Regions from separate parts of the Homo sapiens genome. Here all the other regions are linked to region 1. Evidence: fine-mapped expression QTL. A gene starts in region 1. Each other region holds a variant in brackets. All regions are shown on one strand. Distances are between the middles of the regions.

Region 1 (8,798 bases):
CTCGGCCAGTTTCAGGATTCCTGGGGCCAGAGATGGGGCGCAGATTTGTTTTGGGGTGGGAGGGGGCCGGTCTTCATGGATTTTAATCCAAGAGCAAAAGGCTGCCCGCGATCTCTGTCCCTGTCTGCATTTTCTCCTCCATCCCTGGAGCTGAGCCCCTGGGGTTTTTGTTTCTGTTTGTACAACCTAAGCCTTCCCTGCATGGTCTTGTCCAACCCTCTGTACGACCCCAAGAAATAGGAACCATGATGAGTTCCATTTTTCAGATAAAGAAACTAAGGTGCAAAGAGCTTATGCATCATCCTTACATGGTGGGGCGAGTTCAAATCCCCCTGCCTTTGGGGTTCGCGGCAGCGGGGCCCCTCTGCCCTGAGCACCGCTGAGCCTCACCCCGTGGTCAGGACACTTAACGCCCTGGTTCTGCAATCAGGCCAGGTTTGGATACTGGCTTTGCAGGGTGACCCAGGACCTGGAGTGACCTCGCAGAGCTCCAACTGTGAATGAGGAGGGAAATTATACTGACTTGGTAGGGGCATCGGTGAATATTACACAAGTCTCTTAGGGACACTTAACCAGTGTCCTGAGTTCATGGTTGGTGCCTCACAGGTTCACAGATGGGCTCCAGACATTTGGCGAAACCTTCAAAATCATTCTACGAATGTCACAAATATGCACCTTCTGGGGGCGGGGGCAGGTCGGACTAATTTTCAAAGGATTGACAGCCAAGAGGAAGGTTAGGAGCAGACAAGGGCAGTTCATCGAGTGAGGAGCAGCGCCTGGTGCCTGGGCAGCAGTGGATGAGCCTGTTATTATCTAGTATTCGTAGTTGTCATTGCTATTTTATCACCATCAGTTCCCCAACGGGGGCTCTCTGTCCCCTTGGCCCTGGGAAGCCAGGGCTGTGTAATGATGGCAGAGGCATTTCTAAGCCCCATTCTCTCCACTCCCCGCCTACACAGAGGCACATGGGAGAGTGAAACGCCAGGAAATTTTGTCCTTGGACGTAGAGAGGGGAGATGGAGAGTGTTCACCTCTCAGTGCTGGCTGATAAGAGATTCAAGTCCATGCTGAGCCTCAGTTTCTCCACCCTAAAAATGTAGGATCAAGGGAGACCTCTCAGGGACATTGTAAGAGCTGAGAATGAAGTCTCTGAGCATGAAGGAAAGCCCTTCTTGCTACGGCTGTGGTTTTCCCCAGAATTCAGGGGGTCCCCTCCAAATTACAGAGCTGGGAGCTCATTCGCCTCCTCTCTCACGCCCCCACTTCTACACACACCCAGCAGTAGAGATGAGCAGTTGGGGAGAGCCTCCATCTTTGGCCTTCCTGAGACTCCCAGGCCTACTGGGCCGGCTCTTTCGCTGGGCTCCGTGACTGGCTGTTCTGTAAGGTCTGGTTTGCTATCAGAGCCGGTGAAAGGGCAGAAAGAAGGGTGGAAAGGAGGGAAAAATGGATCTCCGGGTTAGCCAACGATGGGACCTGCGGCTTCCCTTCCCCAACTGAAGAGGGCCCAGGAGTGAAGGAGTCTGCTGGGAAAGGGCTCCCCAACTTCATGCTCTAGGGACCCGCTCACTTTGAAGGCGCCCCATGAGTGGGGGAGGGGCGAGGGGAAGGGAGATGCTATTTCCACTTTCAGCGAGCCGCAGCGTGCGCCCTGCACCCCTAGCTGGCTTAAGAGCTGTGCAGCCTTCTCTGCTCACCTCTGCTAAGGGCCAGATGTGCTCTGGCAGTCGGCAGTAGCGACCCCTTCCTGGGAACAGAACTTTCCTCCGGAGGCCAGGGTCTCCTCATCTGCAACTGCCATTTGCCACACACACACACACAAAAGTTGGGAGAGAATGTGAGAATGCTTGTGTTCGTGGACGCGTGCGCACGTATGGAGCGGCGGTACCTATGATTATTTGCGCGTGGCGCCTGGCTATGCGTGGGCGAACGCGCAGTGGAGAACATGTGGGCGTGCATGAAGTGTGCACTTAAACCAAAGTGTGCCCTCCCCGTTGGGCAGGCCTGTGTGTTGGTCCAAGGGTTGGGAGCGCCTGAGCTGTGTGAGGGTCGCTGGGAAGGGTGTTTGAGGCCGTGGGCGGTGCGGAGCGTGTCTGTGTGCGCGGAGGCTGAGCTGGTTGTGTGAAGTGGTAGCGGGTCTGCCAGAGAGCGTTTACCTGCGTGAATGCACAACCACACACTACGGGTCACGTCCCACACTCATTCTTTCCCTAGGCGGGCCAGGCTGTCTGCACGCGGAGACCCAGAGAGGCCAGCGGAAGGGCAGCGCGGGAAGGCGGCTCTCTTCTCCCGCGAGCGCAGATCTGGCGGAGGAGGCGGCGACTGCCCGGCAGGCTGCGCCGGCGAGCCCCCCAGCTCCTCTCACCGACGTGCCAGGCGCCCCGAAGGCGACAGGCGTCTCCCGCCGAAAATGAAGGCGTCCGAGCCAGGAAGGTGGGGGCGGGTAGTTAGCGGGAGACAAGGAGTCCGGAGAAAACCGAGAGGCGGGTAGGCTTTGAACGCGCCGCGCCGCGGGCCGTGCTGCGAGCCCGGCACACGCCTCTCGCCCCAGCTCGCGCTGGGGCTTGGCCTCTAGGCTCTTCGCGATGACCCGCGAAAACACCCCTCGCCCCCCTCTTCTCAACTCGGAACCCTGGAGGGAGAGGCCGCGCCCGGCCAGCAGTCGCTGCGAGAGCAGCACTCACCTGGGTCTGTGCGCGCCGCGATGCGCCGGGGCTCCTGCGCTGTCCTGCGCTCCGCTCTCGGCACCACCTTTCGTGGCTCCACCGCCCCCAGCCCGCACCCGAGCGCTGAGGTGGCAAGGGCAGGTCTGCGTGCGAGCCCCCTGCGGGCTGGCAGCCAGGTGCGCGAGGGCCGCCCTTGCCGGCGCTCCCAGCCCGCGCTGTCTGCTCTCAGGAACCTGGCCTGGCGCGCAGTGTCAGAGGCCCCGCGGCGGCGGCAGGCCGAGCCCACAGGGGCATTAGGCCAACTCCCCCCTCCCGCCCTGCGCACGCGGAATTCTCTATTATTATTATTAAAGAATCCCCCAGAACTTGTTTACGTTAAACCCTGTAAACTTCCTGCCAGGGCCTTTGCCATCTCTCGGGAAATCGGAACCTGCGCTTTGAAAACGGGGCCGCGGGGCCAAATAGGCGGGTTTTCAGTGTGTGTTGGGGGTGGGGGAGGGCAACTGAACTACGTGTGAGTTCAGATCCGAGCGTGGCGTGTGTACGCGTGAGTGGGAGTGAGTGCGAACTTAAGCTCCTGTGGGCCTTAAGCTTCCGTGTCAACGAGTGCATTAGTGGGTGCGCACATGCCTGAGCGCCCTCTGCATATGAGTGTGCACACACGCATGGGTGTGTTTACACGTCTGTTTGCGTAATTTACCGGGTTTGCATGTGCATCAAGACATGTATGTGTGTGCTAATGTGTGGACAAGAGCGCGAGGGTGTGCGCGCACGGGTGAGTGACTGAGCACGCCGCTTATTCAGGGGCCTGTGCGGTCTGGGTCGCCTCTGGGCCAGCGGGTTCTCACTCGCCCCCGTCAGGCCCGCGGCGCCCGAGACAAAGCGGCCGCGACTCGTGCTGCGCTTTCGTTTTCCGCCTGCGCTCTGCCCCGGCGGCTGCCCGCCCGCTCGCAAGCTGCTGGGCGAGTCCGAAAAATCCCGGGAGCGGCGCAGTTCTTCCCGGGGCGGGGAGAGTGGGTAGGCGGTCCCTCGCGGGAACTTAGCCGGCCGGCCGCGAGGACCGGAGTCGAGCCGGCTGTGCCTGCGATGGTCACGACCGGGAGGCCGCCGCACTTGCGATTTGCTACAGGGCTGTGCGCGTCGGGGAAGGCCCCGGCCCAGGGAGCGTTTCCCGCCGCGCCGCCCGGGCGGGGAAGGCGGGGTCCAGCGCGCACCGGGGCTGAACCGCGGGCGGAGGGCGCATTAACACTTGCTCGCCAGGTTGGTGGAGGCGGGGCGGATTCTGCTGGCGGCCGCGGGGCGGCGAGAGTGGGGGCTCTTTAAGCGCCCACCAACGCGGGGGCCCGAGGGGGGCAGGGACGGAGGGAGGGAACTCCGGGAGGGTCTTAGGCCGACCCGCGAGACGCAGCCGAGCGGAGATGGAGTGAAGGCTGCCTCGCCCGGAATCTCGGAGCCGAGCGCCGCGGGCGGCGGGGACTCAGGGCTGCTCCCGGCTGGGGCGCACGGCCGTAAGACCTGGAGGTGGTGCCTCCCCCCAAAAAATACCGGCGGGGGTAGCTTCCTCACGGCCTTCGCCCGGGCTGCCCTCGGCCTCAGCTCGGCTCCTTTCCTTGTGGGAGGGCGAGAAAGAAAGAGGGAGGAGAGAGGTGGGGGAGGCGGGAGTTGGAGAGAGAGGGGCTCTGAGCCAACCGCCGGCGGATCCAGCAGCTCCTCGGGGAGGGCGGGCGGGAGCGCGGGGGCGGGCGCGCCGCGGCTCGCTCGGGAGAAGTGGCCGCCGATGACGGCAGAGGTGCAGCCAGCCCCGCGCGCGCAGCCCCCTCCCCTTCGCCCTCCTCCCCCCCGTCGTCCTCTTCCTCCTCCTCCTCCTCCTCCTCCCGGCCCGTCCGCGGCGCAGAGCAGCGGCGGCAGCGGCGGCGGCGGCAGCAGCCACCCGATGTCTTCGGCGCCCGAGAAGCAGCAGCCACCGCACGGCGGCGGCGGCGGCGGCGGCGGGGGAGGCGGCGCGGCCATGGACCCCGCGTCGTCCGGCCCGTCCAAGGCCAAGAAGACCAACGCCGGCATCCGGCGCCCGGAGAAGCCGCCCTATTCCTACATCGCGCTCATCGTCATGGCCATCCAGAGTTCACCCACCAAGCGCCTGACGCTGAGCGAGATCTACCAGTTCCTGCAGAGCCGCTTCCCCTTCTTCCGGGGCTCCTACCAGGGCTGGAAGAACTCCGTGCGCCACAACCTCTCGCTCAACGAGTGCTTCATCAAGCTACCCAAGGGCCTTGGGCGGCCCGGCAAGGGCCACTACTGGACCATCGACCCGGCCAGCGAGTTCATGTTCGAGGAGGGCTCCTTTCGGCGGCGGCCGCGCGGCTTCCGAAGGAAATGCCAGGCGCTCAAGCCCATGTACAGCATGATGAACGGGCTCGGCTTCAACCACCTCCCGGACACCTACGGCTTCCAGGGCTCGGCCGGCGGCCTCTCGTGCCCGCCCAACAGCCTGGCGCTGGAGGGCGGCCTGGGCATGATGAACGGCCACTTGCCGGGCAACGTGGACGGCATGGCCCTGCCCAGCCACTCGGTGCCCCACCTGCCTTCCAACGGCGGCCACTCGTACATGGGCGGCTGCGGCGGCGCGGCGGCCGGCGAGTACCCGCACCACGACAGCTCGGTGCCCGCCTCCCCGCTGCTGCCCACCGGCGCCGGTGGGGTCATGGAGCCGCACGCCGTCTACTCGGGCTCGGCGGCGGCCTGGCCGCCCTCGGCGTCCGCGGCGCTCAACAGCGGCGCCTCTTATATCAAGCAGCAGCCCCTGTCCCCCTGTAACCCCGCGGCCAACCCCCTGTCCGGCAGCCTCTCCACGCACTCCCTGGAGCAGCCGTATCTGCACCAGAACAGCCACAACGCCCCAGCCGAGCTGCAAGGTGAGTGGGGAGGCCGAGGGCGCCCTGGTCCCCGGGAAGTCGAGTCTGAGTGGCAGCGGGACCCAGCTGGGGCGAGCCCCTCCACTTCTGTGGTCGGAACCCCAAGGCTGAGGGGAGGCACCAGCTCCCCAAGGTGTCTCTTGGCCCCACCTCTCCCCCTTCGAAGAGTGACTACCGCTCTTGACCCTAGTTTGGGCCAATCTGTTTCTCTTTCTGTTCGAACTCCAGCTGCCAGCTGCTCCAGGCCTGACCAGGTAGGCTGGTCCTGAGCCAGATGTCCCAGACCCCAGTGCCCTAAGTCCTTTTGTGTCCCTTAAGTCCCCTCACAGCTTGGAAAGATCCTGGGATGGACCCAAGGCTCCCAGCGCTGGCCAGATGGCTGTCCCTCCCTGGTGGTGGCCCTCAGGCTGCCTGGAGGGCTGCCTCTGCCTGGGGCTGGGCGGAACGGAAGGTGTTAGGCCCAAAGCCGCTGGGCCAGCGCTCAGAGGCTCAGCCCCGGCCTTTCAGGGGACCAGACCTGGCAGACCCACAGCTGAGTCCAGGGGCATTTTGTGGTGACTGAGGCAGGAGGGTGCCGTGGCCAGGCCCCGGAGGGTCAGAGCTGCAGACCGGGCCATGGGGGCTCCTTGTTTTTTAGGATCCAAGTTTTCAGGTCCCCACACCCCCAACACCCCTGATACCCCAATACCCCGAACATGCAGAAGCATCTGCCAAGGGAGATGCAGCAGCCTCGCCTCCTGATTCTGCCCCAGGCCCCCCGCAGCCTGCAGGCCCAGCTCTGGAAAAAGCTGGAGTGAGCTTGCCAGGGCCAGTCCAGGGTCAGCTGTCAGCAGCCCCAGGAGGCAGGAGCCAGGCCTGGAGGCCTTAGGCAGCCTCTCTGCGGGGGACTCCCCGGCTCCGGGGCCTGTTCTCTGGAGAAGCTTCTTCTCACCCCTGCTGCTGGCCCGGCGCTGGCCCTGCACTGGCCTCTCCTTCAACCCCGCCGGCAGTCGTAGCCTCTGAGGTTGGGGGTGGTGGTGGCTGCCCTGGCGGTGACGGCCATGGGCGTTAGGGGCCCTCCACTTGGTCTCCCTCACCACTTCCCCTATGGCTCTGGAAGCCCTGGGCCCCTGCACGGTGTCCGAGGCTGGACAGGCACGCAGCAGGCAGGCAGGCAGGCAGGCAGGCAGGCCGTGGCAAGTGTTCTGGAGTCTTTTCCTTGGGTGCGCAGCTGGAAGGCCGGGACTCGGGGAGGAGAGCGGGGAGGCGGCCGTGCTCTGGAGCCAGGCTGACAGGCCCTGTGCGCCCCACGGGAGCACTGCTCCTCTGCCTGAACTCTGAGCCACCGTGGCTAACTCTTCTGCTCCCCCAACCCCTCCTGTCGCCTCGCCTTGCAGGCATCCCGCGGTATCACTCGCAGTCGCCCAGCATGTGTGACCGAAAGGAGTTTGTCTTCTCTTTCAACGCCATGGCGTCCTCTTCCATGCACTCGGCCGGCGGGGGCTCCTACTACCACCAGCAGGTCACCTACCAAGACATCAAGCCTTGCGTGATGTGAGGCTGCCGCCGCAGGCCCTCCTGGTGCAGGCAGGCGGGTCACAGGGACCCTGGACCGGCACAAGAAACTGCTTTCTTCTCGAGGTATAACCGTCGGCAGAAGAAAAGGGTTCCACCTCTCCCCAACCGGAGTTTTTGGCAAGGAGTCCCCAATGCAAAGACACAGCGCTGCGGTTGGCACCTCCTTCCTCACTCCTTCAAAATTGTTAAGAAATGTTAGTGGTGGGTCTGATCTGACTGCAGCCATCGGTAAATAAAAGTTTTTGATCCTGTTGAACCCGCCTGAGACGGTGCTGTGCAGGGGAAAGCCCCCGCACCCACACAGGAATTCTGCTGAGGTCCCCCCTCCTTCCGGCCAATGGCAGAAGTGGGGGAAAATTTTTAGAAGAAAAGCAAACATGTGAGACCAATCATTATCAAATACTTTTATTTTTTGGTTGAGTATTTATCTTTTTATTTTTTATTTTTTTTTTGAAAGAATGTCTTGGAATGCGCAAGTCTCCCTTTAGAGCCGTCTTTTGCAGGGAGCGGGAAGTGACAAGAGCTCAGATCTCCCTCCCGATCTCCCTCCCCACCTCCGAAGTCTCCTCCGTGGACCACAGGTGGATCTTTGTGCGAACAACTTGCATTTCGGAAGCCACTGTCCGTCTTTAAACAGAAAGTCAAAGGAGCCACGAAGCAAGCGGCCGTCCGGGCGTCCGCCTCCGTCCCCTTCCATGTTCCTCCTCTTCCTTCGCTTCAGCCTCTTCTGTTATGTTTTGTCTTGAATTTTATTTAGACTTTTTCAGTGGGTATTTTTCTGTCTCCCAACCTCTACTGTAAACTTTCTGGTCCGAGAACGAGCCGAACACAGCGCGACGCAGGGACTAGGACGGCCCGGTGACCGCGCGGATTCAGGATTGCGGGGACGCAGAAAGGTTAAGGCACTTTTAAAAACTATAGCAAGGCTCCTGTTTATTTATTCTACTTTCTTTCCCTAATAATCAAAACACCGCGTAGGCTCCTCCGTTTATCAGTATTAATGGTGTAACTTTGTTGGCAATATTTGCCGTGTAGAATTTTTTTTAGATATCCATTGTAAATTTGAAACAAAGACCGATCTGTGTAAAAACAAATTTCCATATGTTTTATATAAATATATATATAATATGAAGGACTACCCTCCTTTTTTTTTTTTGTATTTTGGCTGCTAGAGTGCAGCATTTGTGACACGTATTTGAAATTTGAAATTTCCTTCTGCACTGTATAAAAGGACCATTTGAGGATGTTTTGCCTTTTGTGTATTTTTTCCTAAAAAAAGAACAAAAATAAAAATGTATAACATTTGTACATGGCCTTTAAAATTGTATCAACTAGAAATAAAATTGCATGAGTATTTTATTGGGACTGAGATTGTAGAATACCTTCCAGACTCCCAAAGATAGAGGGGGGAAAAAAGAAAAAACAGGCTTTGGATCTCTAGACGCTTAAAAATTTACAATCTGGGTGATTCTGAGTACTTTTTTCTTTTTTGGCAAATCCTCCTCTTTTCACTCTTCATTCCACTTTGAAGTAAACGCTGGACAAGAGGAACTATTTTTCTTGGCTTCTGTTTTTTAAGAAGAGCCCTTTGCCCCTCTAAATGTCATTGATCGTTTTAAAGAAATAAACTTTTAAAGAACACTATAGACCTCCTTCCCCTAGG
Region 2 (6,064 bases), 160 kb before region 1:
GGCCCAAAACGCTCTCCCAAGCAAAAGGGAAAAGAAGACAGAGGGGGGTTGGGGATTGTGTCAGGTAGTGAGCTGTTTCCTGGAGAAGCCTGCGTCTGGTTCCAGAGGGAAGTGAGTTTCTAAGAGAAGGCATCTGTAGGAATTTTGCCCATCAGCCGTGACACCAGCACTGCTGTTGGAGGGATGAACAGCTCATGACAAAGTCCTGTCTCCTCTCTCCCCTTCCCCGTGTCTGTGCAATATCATTAGAACTGGCAGACCCTTATTAAAAACAGTTGGCCACTGAGAGGCTATATCCTGTGTGAGACAGAAGCCCAGATGGTAGGTGGTCTTACTTTTGGGGTGGGGTGTTCCAGGTGGTAACAGCCTCGAGGGCGGGAGGACCATGCCGCCTGTTTCTTGGCATCCGTAGGTGGTTCCTGCCTCCTTCCCTTTGGCAGGTGTGTGGGAAGGATTGAGTGTGAAGGGATGCTCACAAGCACTGAGAAGATGGCCTGGCACTTGTGAAATGACAGAGGTGGCCTGGGAGGTGTCCCGGACCCTGGATTTAATGTGCAACACATGGTTCAGTCGGTCCCAATGTTGGGACTGTAGAGAACGTACCAGAAGCCTCACAGATACTCAAGGAGTCGTGATTATTAGGACTGGGCTGAGTTAGCTCTATCTAGTACTTTGTAATTTTAAAGACCTACTCAAGCAATATTACAATATAAACGGGATCACATGGACTACCTTTCTACTTCAAACAACTCCAGAGGCATCCTGCTGTGGATAACAGAAGCTGATTCTCTTTCTCTCTCCGCCTCCTCCTCGTCTTCCACCTCCCTCATAAAGCATCCCCCAGCACTGACAGGGTACCGTCATAATGATGGTTATATTGAACTATGTGAGTGCCTACTCTTTGCTAACCAAACTAAATTATTAGTTGCATCATTTCATCTCAACTTCACACAGTTATTATATTTTTTCCTTTTTCTTTTATTATGGCAAAGTCTAGTTAATGTAAACCTTGCCATTTTAACTTTTTTAAAGTGAATATTTCAGTGGCATTGGGTCCATTCGCATTATCGCACCACCATCGCCACCGTCCAATTTCAAAACTGTTTCCATCCTGCAGAACTGGCACTTAGTATTCATTACACGACCCCCTCCTGCAGCCACGCTGGGAGCTGACCCTCTCCACCCATGCTTCGTGCACTCAGGCGCTCATCCAGGGATCATCCTGTACCTCAGACTCTGCCAAGAACTGTCCGGCCCCAGGGCCTTTGCAAGCGCAGGTCGCACGGCCTGGGATGCCCTCTCCCAGCTCACCACATGGCTGGCTCTTTCCCATTCATTGGCCTCAGCCCAGTGGCCTCCTTCTCGTCAGAGAGGCCGCCCCTGCCTGCCCTGGCTGGCCGGCCCCTCCCCCACAATGACTCTATGACATCATCGTGTTCCTTCTCCTCGGAGCCCTCAGACCCTCTGAAATCCTCTGGTCTGTGTTTTGTTTCCTCCGTCTCTATCTCTCTCCCCACTAGAAGGCAGGTCTCAGGAGGGCAAGGACCCGGCCTGTCCAGCTTCCAGCCGTAGCCCCAGGGCCGGGTGTGCAGTAGATACTCAACAAGCCTTCTTTCCTCCCACCAGCCTTTCCTCCACAAGGGGAGACAGGACTTGGGGGTGTTTTTGGGGGTCTAAACAACACAAAGGAAAGAGACGCTGAAGTGGGTGAGCTGGCCTCGCACTGCACTTCCTGCTGGAGTTCAAAGTCAGCCCTGCCCCTGGAACTGCCATGGCCAGTTTAGATTGTTCCAGAATCCCGCTGCAGGCTGTTCAAAAGGCTCCCAGCTGCTATCAGGAAATAGCTCAGGAAGGTCCCTGTTAAACACCACCCCCATCCCCGTAACCCTGAGCAGCCCTCCGCCACCTGCTATTTTCTATCTCTGAGAATTTGCTGACATTAGGCAAGTCATGTCTGTGGAATTATACAATGTTTGTCCTTTTATGAGTGGTTTGTTTCACTCGGCACCATATCCTCAAGGCTCACTCATGTCATAGCAGGTGTCAGAACTTCCTTCCTTTTTAAGGCTGAATAATATTCCACTGTATGGATGGACCACGTTTTGTTTATCCATTCTCCTGTCAATGAACATTTTCGTTGCTCTCAGCATTTGGCTGTTAGGAATAGCGCTCTGAGGACATTTGTGCACACGTGTTTGCATGGATTTAATTGTTTTTCCTTTTCTTGCCTGTTCTTGGGTGTCGTGGCCAAGAAGCCACTGCCGAGTCCAACATTGTGAAGCTTTCCCCCTATGTTTTCTTCTAAGAGTTTTGTAGTTTTTTTACATTTAGTTATTATGGTAATGCCTTTGATCCTTTTTGAGTTAATTTTTTGTATCTGGTGTAAGAGAAGGGCTCAACTTCATTCTTCTGCGTGTGGTATTTGGTTTTCCAAATACCATTTTTTGAAAAGACTGCCCTTTCCCCACTGAAGGGTCTTGGCTCAAGACACTTGAATGTCAAATAAGTCAAAGGGCTTCTTTCTGGGCTCTGTGTTCTGTCCCATTGGTCTATCTGTCTGTATGTAGGTCAGGACCACAGTGTTTTGATTGTCATAGTTTTCTAGTAACTTTTGAAATCAGAAAGTGTATGACTTCCAACTTCCTGGTTTGTATTTTTACATTTTATATTTTGTCCCCATTTTACAGATGAGACAAAGGAAGCTCAGAGAGGGGAACTGACTTCCGAGGTCACAGAACAAGCAAGGGTGGGACAGGATTTGAACCCAGGCTTGTTTGACCCCAGCCCCTTTCAACAAACATTTCTGTCTCAGCTTGGATCACAGAGCAAGAAAGTTACAGCCCTTCCCAGCCCCCTTCCTGTCCTGCTGATGAATTCAGCTGGGGTGGCAGCCTCGACACATCTCAAAGGCTCTGATACGGTTTGGCTGTGTCCCCACCCAAATTTCACCTTGAATTGTAATAATCCCAGCATGTCAAGGGCAGGGCCAAGTGGAGATCATTGAATCATGGAGGTGGTTTCCCCCATGCTGTTCTCATGGTAGTGAGTAAGTCTCACGTGATTTGATGGTTTTTTAAATGGGAATTC[C/T]CTGTCACAAGCTCTCCTGCCTGCCACCATGTAAGACCTGCCTTTGCCTCTCCTTTGTCCTCTGCCATGAGTGTGAGGCCTCCCCAGCCATGTGGAACTGTGAGTCCATTAAACCTCCTTCTTTATAAATTCCCCATTCTCAGGTATGTCTTTATTAGTAGCGTGAGAACAGATGAGGCTCACTGGACTAGCTGGTGGGGGAGGAGAAAGCAGCCCATGTTCCCTCTCTCAAGCAGGACCATTTTGTTTTCCTCAGTTTCCCTCTTCCACTTCCACTTGGGGACCCCCACAGCCATGGCCAGAGAGAGGGAGCTTGGGGTCCCAGTGCCTGGTACAAACTCACTCTGCCCCTCACTGCCCTTGGGGTCCCCACTCTGTGGGGTCAGGGACCGGGGTCCACAAGGAACTGCTTGTCGCCATCTTCCCACCCCCCACCCCAAAGGGGCTTGAGCATGTTCCCAGGCTCGCTTTCCCCACTGAAGGAGGGGTGGCTGTGTGAGTCCTTCCACTTCATGACCCTCTCTGTTTCCTTATATGTTCAGCAAAGGCTTGACTGAAGTCACGGGTCTCATCATTCCTTTCCTAAGCTTTCTTCAAACAGCATGGTGCGTGGATGAGGACACACGTGCTCTGTAGAAGGTGGGGCCACAAAGCCCTGCCGACCGACCTTTCCTGCCTTCTGCCTCTAAGGTGCAACCCCGAAAGCACCTGCTGGAACCTTTGGGGCTCAGGGAGCACAGCCTGGAAGCAGGGGGATACTCCCCAGGGCTGCAGTCCACCTCGGAAGCTGCTCACCACAGGTGTCTGCTTACACTTCAATTCAGATCACATAAGATACACATGCAGCTCTTAGGCTTCTGAGCCACCCTTCAAGAGCACAGCCACTCGTGGCTAATGGCTGCTGACTGGAACCCTGGATGGCCCAATCTGGAACTTTTCATCACCCCAGAGCATCCTGTGCAGTGCTTCTCCCGGGGAGCCCTGCAGGCAGTGACCTCCAGCTCCGAGCCTGATCCCACATGAGCAGGAAGAAGACAGCCCAGGGAGGCTGCCCACAGCCACAAGCTCATTTCTCATGGCAAACCACAAATGGGAGATGCTAAGAAATTAGAATAGAGGATGCTCCAGAGCAGACGCTCCTGTTTACAGGTACCTGGTTCTATACAGTCACGCATGAAAGGAAAATGGTGATATCTAAGAAACAGAGGAATCCATGGGCTCAACCAATGAGGTCGTAAGGAGCTCTAGGATGGGGGTGTCACAGAGGTCTCACATGTTTAGGTGGGTGGAGAGTTTCAGAGCATGACTGGTTGATAATAACTGGTAGGCACTGTTGGCGGACGGCAACCATGCCAGGCATATAGCAGGGTGCTGCGTCTTCTCTAATTCTCACTGCGGCCAATGAGTTTAGAGATTTTCACTCCCATTTTAGAGATCAGCTGAGACACAGAAAGGCCAAGCAGCTTCCTCAGTCAGAAAAGGGGCAGAGCCAGGGTTCACCCCCTGGCAGAGCCATGCACCAGTTCTGCAGAGCCCAGGACGGGGTGAGGCCAGTCGTGAGGGACAGAGAAAGGCCTAAAGAAAGAGGAGGACAGAAAAAGGGCCCGTGTTGGACAGAGAAGGAGCGATTACTGAGGCCTGAGGTCAGGCTCATGGAGGGCACTGGCCTGTGGTCCGCAGTGGCATTCAGAGCATGCGTTGGTCCTTCCACCACCATGTATAGCTGGTGCCCTTGGAGATTCCATCTGCTTTCCTATGGGGTCTGTGAGGTTGGACTTCGGGAGCCCATTTCATGGACCTGAACACTGAGTATCAGAGGGAAGAGTTTGCCAGGGGTCAGCCTCTGTATCCTCTCTCCCCACGCTACATCTGAGATTCACCCAGAGGGGCCCTTGGGGAAACACCCAGTTGTTGAGAGCAGCAGATCTCAGACTTGGGCTTGCATGAGGGTTCCCTGGAGGGTCTGTGACGGGGCCGGGGTGGGGCTGAGAATGTGCATTTCTAACACACAAACTCCTTTCATCCTGCAGAGCTGAAACTCAGTACTCATTAAACAACTCCCTCCTGCAGCCACGCTGGGAGCTGACACTCTCCACACATGCTTCATGCACCCAGGCGCTCATCCAGGGATCATCCTGTACCTCAAATACCCCCAAGAACTGTCCTGCCCCAGGACCTTTGCACATGCTGGACCCACTACCTGTGATGCCCTCTTCTGGCTCACCACGTGGCTGGCTCCATCTCATTCATTGGTCTCAGCCCAGTGGCCTCCTCATCAGAGGGGCTGTCCCTGCCTGCCCTGGCTGGCCCAACCCCTCCCCCACAATGACTCTGTGATGTCACTGTGTTCCTTCTAGGAGCCCTCAGGGCTCTGGAATCCTCTGGTCTGCACCCAGGTGGCACTGCTGCTGCTGCTGGTCCAGATACCACCTTTTGAGAACCACTGGTTTAAGGAACACGCCCCTCCCTGCTCATTCAGTTGAGGCCTCTCCTCAAGAAGATATCTTTGCATTTGTTGTTTTTGTGTTGCTTTGTTTTGTGTTGCCGTAAAGATGTGAGATGCTGCTCCTGGGACTCCAGGCTGATTCCTGACACCAGCATGTCTGCATTTTTGCAGAAGACCAGAGAATTCTGGGGTTCGAAGCTATGAGGTTTTGGGGTTTCTCTAAGGCAGTGGTGGGAGGAAGACCTCTCCCCTGAGCCCTCTCTCCTCAGCCAACCAGGAAGCTCAGAATTCCACAGCCTCCCTGACTCCCACCTCAGCAGGCACCAAGATTGCTGTAATTCGGCACTGGCAGGTCTTGCAGGAGTTCAACTGATCCTGGATCTCGCTCCTTTTGACCTGGAGTATTTTGTAGGCTCTTTCTTATCGACAAGCTGTGTGTTCCAGGGAAACTCTCTCCTCTCTCCCTGGTCCATGCTGAAAATGCCGTTGAGGGCTTTGCATCATTTCACTGTTCCCAGAGTGTCTACATTT
Region 3 (6,182 bases), 390 kb before region 1:
GTAGACAGAGAGGGTAGGTAGCCTGCCCAGGGTCACACAGCAGCTGCCATCTGGGGCCCAGATTGGCCTCCCTGCCCAACTGCTGTTTCAGGCGTGGAGTGAGGGGTTCCCCCCAGAGCCCTAGAGAGCAAAAGTCAGTGCCTTGGGGTTGTAGCAGGTGGGGGCAGTCCTTTATTCTGTACACAGGAGGTGCTCAGGGCCGGTTGTCACAGTGCCATCCTGCTGTAGCTGGCTGTCTGAGGGGGAGCAGGACAGACTCTCAGAGCACAGGTTATTTTCATCATGAGAGCATCCCTGCATCACCACGGTTGACACGGTTTTTAGGGTCCCAAGTTGATCTAGCAAAACCCAGCTAAATCAGAATGTAGCAGAAATAGAACCACCCCTTGACCGCCAGAACCTCTTTACTTAGTCAAATATCTAAAAGTAAATTGTAAAATCTGTCAAGGAATCCCAATGAATTAAAAACTCAACATCCCCTTTTTTAATACTGACCTTGTATTCCCCTTGTATTCCTTTTACTTTTCTGCTTCTAGTATGTGCTGACATCAAAGACCAAATAACCAAATGTACTAACATTGTGGACGAAGTACAATACCAATAGCAGGGACCTGTGGGTAAGCTCTAAGGGCTTCAGGGGCTTCAGGGGACTGGACTTTGCCCATCTCTTTTGGTGCTCAGAAATTTCTAGTCAAGGATGACAATGAAGAATAGACAGGAAAAAGCTATTAAAAAATAGTTGGTATAGGCTGGGCACGGTGGCTCATGCCTGTAATCTCAGCAATTCGGGAGGCTGAGGCAGGAGGACCACTTAAGCCCAGGAGTTTGACACCAGCCTGGGAAGCATGGCAGAACCTTTTCTCTACTAAAAATACAAAAATTATCCAGGTGTGGCAGCATGTACCTACTTGGAAGTCCCAGCTACTTGGGAGTCCCAGCTACTTGGGAGTCCCAGCTACTTGGGAGGCTAAGGTGGGAGGATTGCTTGAGCCCATGAGGTAGAGGCTGCAGTGAGCCAAGATCGTGCCACTGCCCTCCAGCCTAGGCATCAGAGCAAGACACCTTGATCTCAGTGTCTTTTTGCACCTGCTCCCTGCTTTCTTGTCGGCATAGCACAGCCCCATCTAGCCCTGTATGATGTGTGTTTCTGTGTTACTTTCTCTATGAGAATGTCAGTGTCCTGTGGGCAGGCATCTTGTCTGTTTTATTCTCTGAAGAATCTCCAGTGCCCACGAGAGCTGTGGCACATAATAGGTGCGAATGATGAAATGAACAAATGTACCTCCAGAGAACATGGCTGTGGGAGCTGCCCATTGATTCATACTCATCTCCATGAGTAGAAAGCCTCCAGATAATTCAGAATAGCTTTTCAACTCTGTGAGAAATGTGAAGCTTATTTTGGAAAAAAAAAACTTACATAAAATGATTGAAATGTTTAAAAGTTTTGTTGATCAAAGCAGCACAAATGATGCCCGCACATGCTTAGGTGGGCAGCTTAGCTACAGTGTGGCTGCGTTTCTTTCTGTTGCTTAGGAAATGAGCTACAAGGCGTGGTGGTCTGAGTCACAGCTTGTTAGTAAGTTAGACCTTAACCTAGCACTTGTTTTTTGATAGCAAAAAAGCATAACTAGCTTGTTTTAAGTGCAGGAAGTTGCTGCCATGCATAGCACCACATCCCTTTTTCCTCCTCCTCCTCTTCCTCCTCCTCCTCCTCTTCCTCCTCCTCCTCCTCTTCCTCCTCCTCCTCCCCCCTTTCCTCCTCCTCCTCCTCCCCCTTCTCCTCCTCCTCTTCCTCCCCTTCTCCTCCTCCTCCTCTAGCTCTTCTTCCTCTCCTCCCTCTCTCTTTCTCCCCACCAGCCTCCAAGCTGGCTCCGCAGTTCTTATCCAAACAGGAGGTGCATCTGTGGGATTTGCCCTGATTTATGGCCAGCAGGAGTGCCAGTTCACACCCCCATATCTCATCCTGAACAACCAGTTCTGGCCTTAGACCCTGTTTAAATGTTAAAAGCAAAGTGTCAAGGTAGCGTTGCTTTTTGGCTTAAGGTTATGAGCCAGATTTTAGTGAGGGGGAAGAACAAAAACATGGCCTATCTAGCAGCATCAAATTGGGAATTTCCCCTGTA[C/T]TGAAAAACGTATTCTAGGGTCATGATCTCTTGGGGGTTCATATTTTTCTTTGCCAGCCCCATATGTGTAATTAAAGCCCATATTTAAAATGAGGACAAGATCCCAGGGCTACTTTCTCACAATAATCAAACCAACTCCTGTTTCCTTTCCCTCTCCTCCTCCTTCTCCCTGTCCCTCTCCCCTTCCCTCCTCCTTCTCCCTGCAATCCTCCCTCCTTCTCCTCCTCCCTCCTCCTCCTCCTCCCTGTCCTTTCCAACCTCCCTCCCATCCTCTCTTCCACCCTCCTCCCCCTCATCATCATCCCCCCACCTCCTTGTTGCTCCTCCTCCCTGCCCCTCCTCACCTCCCTCCCATCCTCCCTTCCACCCTCCTCCTCCCTCCTCCTCCTTCTTCTTCCTTGTTGCTCCTCCTCCTGCCTGTCCCTCCCCATCTCCCTCCTATACTCCATTCCTCTGCCCTCATCCTTCCTCCTCATCCTTGTCCCTCCTCACCTCCCTCCCATCTTCCCTTCCTCCCTCCTCCTCCTCCTCCTGCCTCCTTCACCTCCTCCTAGTCCTTCCTCCTCCTGCTTGTCCCTCCCCACCTCTCTCCCTTCCTCCCTCCTCCTGCTTGTCCCGCCGCACCTTCCTCCCTTCCTCCCTCCTACTCCTGCCTCCTCCTCCTCCTTGTCCATCCTCCTCCTCCCTGTCCCTCCCCACCTCTCTCCCGTCCTCCCTTCCTCCCTCCTCCTTGTCCCTCCTCCTTCTCCTTGTCCCTCCCCACCTCCCTTCCATCCTCCTCTCTCTCCTGCCCCTTCTCCACTTTGATCTGGAGCTGCTGCCCGGGCTGATGCTGAGGGTGACTCTTGGTGACCAGACACTGCAGATCAAGGCCAGCACAACTGAGCCCACAGTGCTGAGCGTGCATCCCCCACGTGCAGCCCCCACAACTGCAAGAGGTGAATGCTCTTCATTTTGCAAAGGAGGAGGATGAGACTCACGAGGTCAGGAAGTCTGGGACCAAGGTGTGACTTCAGATTCCAGAACTGGTGCTCATGGGGTAAAAGGGGAGGAGAAACGATTCCTGCTCTGGGGCAGTGTCTTTCAGAGCTGGCTTAGAGCCTCCATCCAACAATCTCCTGGGCCAGGTGAAGAGACTGGGTGTGGAGAGGCCTTGCTTGGGCTGCAGCAGCGAGTGGGGCTGTGTCACCCTCCTTACTCTGTCCGAATCCCCGCTCAGTGGTCTCTCCTCCTCCTTAGCCTCCTCGTTAGCCTCTCAGCCTTCTTCTCTGTGCTTGGTCTTCAGCTCTCTCCTCCTCTCTCCCAGTCTCCCAAGGTGATGATCAGAGCCTCCAGAGTGGATAAGCCTGTGGGCCCTGGAAGCTGACCTCTTCCAACTGCACCGACAGCACCCTTGATTCTGCCAATGGGGGTCCAGCAGGAAGTCGGGGGAGCGGAGGAGTGAGGCCAGGGGCTCTGTGGGGTCTCCCCAGACTGGCTGCTGCCCTGGCTGCTCTGGGACTGTGGGCGAGTTGCCAAGGCTTTCTGGCCAGAGGTGGGAATCCTCCAGCTTCTCTCCCAGGCTGGCCCCGCCTCCACGACCCTCCTTTCAGGCCCCCACGGCCCCCACTAAGGCCTGGGGCACCAGCCCTCAGCCCTCAATGCTTTGGACTACTTCCTGTCCTGTTCTGCAGGTGCACTCACCTCCGCAGCAGAACACACACTGAGGGCCGAAGCTCCTCCTCCTGCGGCACGGAGTCCCCACCTGTGTGCCGGTTTCCTGGAGACTCTGCCCTGCTACTTGGACCCAGAGGAAGGCAGATGTTTGGACCAGGAGCTCTCGACCTTGCACATTGCAGTCAGCGGGGGCTCCGCAGAGTCTGATGCCCAGGCTGTACCCCAGGGTTTCTGCCTCCAGTGGTCTGAGGCGGGGACAGCTGCTAGGCATTTAAATGCTACCCTGGAAACTCCAAGGTGCACCCAGGACAGAGAACCATGTGCTGAAAATGCTGAGTGTCAGTGCGGAGGTGGGATGTGCGAGGGCCATGATTTACCTCCACAGCCACAACATGCCAGTAGCATTTTTTCTATAAATGCAAATGTTTTAGATAGTAGTATTCAAATTATTTGAAACAGGACTATCTTTTTAAAAAATAGTATCCCTTTAAAAATCTTTTTTTTTTTTCTTTCTGTGGCAGGGCCTCACTCTGTTGCCCAGGCTGGAGTGCAGCCACACCATCTCGGCTCACTGCAGTCTCTACCTCTTGGGCTCAAGTGATCTTCCCGCCTCAGCCTCCTAAGTAGTCACCACACTCAGCCAATTTTTAATTTTTTTTTTTCTGGAGATGAAGTCTCACTCTGTTGCCCAGGCCAAAGTGCTGAGATTACAGGAGTGAGCTACCGCACCTGGCCAAAAATCCAAACTAATATTTAATAATAACAGAATGGTTACTTCATACCAGGCACTGTTCTCAGCATTTTGCCTATTTTGGCATTTAAACTTTGCAGCAGTAGGCTGAGGTAAAAACTATAGTTGTCCCATTTTACATAGGGGAATAGAGGCAGGGAGAGGGCAGGTTGCCAGAGGCCAGGTCACTGGCTAGGACATGGCTGGACTTTGGCTGGGATTGGGGGGCAGGTGGGCTCCACACCTGTGCACATAACCAGCCACACCCAGCCCTGCAGTGCCTTGTTACCATCGCCTAAGCAGTGTGATGCTTGACAGGATATGCTTGAGTACTGTTTTATGATCTCCAGTTCACATAAAAATCAATATGGAGGCCAGGCGCGGTGGCTCACACCTGTAATCCTAGCACTTTGGGAGGCTGAGGTGGGTGGGTTGCCTGAGCTCAGGAGTTTGAGACCAGCCTGGGCCACCCGGTGAAACCCCGTCTCTACTAAAACACAAAAAATTAGCCAGGCGTGGTGGCATGCACCCGTAGTCCCAGCTACTTGGGAGGCTGAGGCAGAAGAATTACTTGAAGTCGGGAGGCAGAGGTTGCAGTGAGCTGAGATTGCACCACTGCACTCCAGCCTGGGCAACAGAGTGAGACTCCATCTCAAAAAAAAAAAAAAAAACCAATATGGAATATTGAAACAAAAAGCTATTCTGTACATACTACTTAAAGTCATTTGGCCACCAGAAACAGAGATCTTGCTCTTTGGGAAATAACGGGATAGAAAGAGTGCTTGCATGGGAATTTGTTTCACATTTGAATACTAGATCCGCCCCATAGGCACGGGGCCTGTCACCTTCCTGAGTGCCAGGGTCCAAGCAGCTGTAAGATGGAGATAATGACACAGACTTCAGAGGGATCCTGAGATGGGAGGTGAAATGCTAACCAAAGCACTGAACAGGCTGGTTTCCTAGCAGAGGCTGCAGTTCTCAGCTATTGGCGGCCAATGGGGGTAGTAAAGGGGATACCACTTTGTGAACCTTTTAACCTGGGCCTCTGTCAAGATGGGAGGATCATTGACTGGTTAGTCTATAAATAGGGCCAAAGAGACCTAAGAGAATTTCATGGAATTGTAACCTTCTGTCCTCCAAATAATCTCAAAGGCAATAAACCTTGCTTGCAGATCAAGGGTTTTCAATGTTTTTATGACCCAGCTCCCCTCTAATGACTTTTCCGGCATTTCCCAAACATCACTGAGCCCCAAGCCCCCTGGTAGTGAGTCTCTGTGTGTCTGACAGCTACGCTGACCAAACCATAATCAGTTAGTGACCCCTCAAAGTAATGGTAGAAGTTTGCCTAATAAAATAAAATTAGCTGTCTATAGAAACAGAATTTGATATACATCGAAATGTGGAAGGGGAAATGTTAAAACTCTAAAGGGGGAATATAGGAGAATATCTTCATGACGTTGGAGCCAAGGCAGCTTTGTTAACATGAAAATATCATGATCTACAAAGGAATTTGATAAATTTGACTATATTAAATGAAAAGACACAATTCTCTTGTTCTTAACAAATACACCCTTAACAAAATAAGGTGGAAAGCCACAGACTGGAAGAAGATATTTTCAACATAAGCCACTGCCTCTGGCCTGGTGTTATGTCCCAGGAGCAGGTGTACAGAT

Direction of the effects. Alleles are on the strand shown, and positions count from the first base shown. SD is a standard deviation of normalised expression in the study named. Not every link is listed here.
For the expression in monocytes after R848 of the gene that starts at base 4,557 in region 1, allele C in region 2 goes with a higher level than allele T (moderate effect, 0.67 SD a copy in Quach 2016).

Evidence for each region. PIP is the estimated chance that this variant, and not a neighbour inherited with it, causes the effect.
Region 2: its variant is fine-mapped to the expression of FOXF1 in monocytes after R848 (Quach 2016, PIP 0.95).
Region 3: its variant is fine-mapped to the expression of FOXF1 in spleen (GTEx, PIP 0.96).

The regions. Positions count from the first base shown.
Region 1 is chr16:86,505,971-86,514,768 of GRCh38, forward strand. FOXF1 (forkhead box F1) reads left to right here and starts at 4,557. Exons shown (of 2, transcript NM_001451.3): 1 at 4,557-5,578; 2 at 6,955-8,798. The coding sequence starts at 4,600. The coding sequence ends at 7,115. FENDRR (FOXF1 adjacent non-coding developmental regulatory RNA) reads right to left here and starts at 2,890. Exons shown (of 4, transcript NR_033925.1): 1 at 2,685-2,890. RefSeq lists an enhancer at 6,050-6,816.
Region 2 is chr16:86,344,264-86,350,327 of GRCh38, forward strand. It overlaps LINC00917 (long intergenic non-protein coding RNA 917), which reads right to left and starts at 1,416. Exons shown (of 7, transcript NR_024406.1): 1 at 1,229-1,416. The variant C/T (reference allele first, on the strand shown) is at 3,088.
Region 3 is chr16:86,119,119-86,125,300 of GRCh38, forward strand. No RefSeq gene overlaps it. Among named protein-coding and RNA genes, the nearest start is that of LINC01082, 74 kb to the right of the region's middle. The variant C/T (reference allele first, on the strand shown) is at 2,124.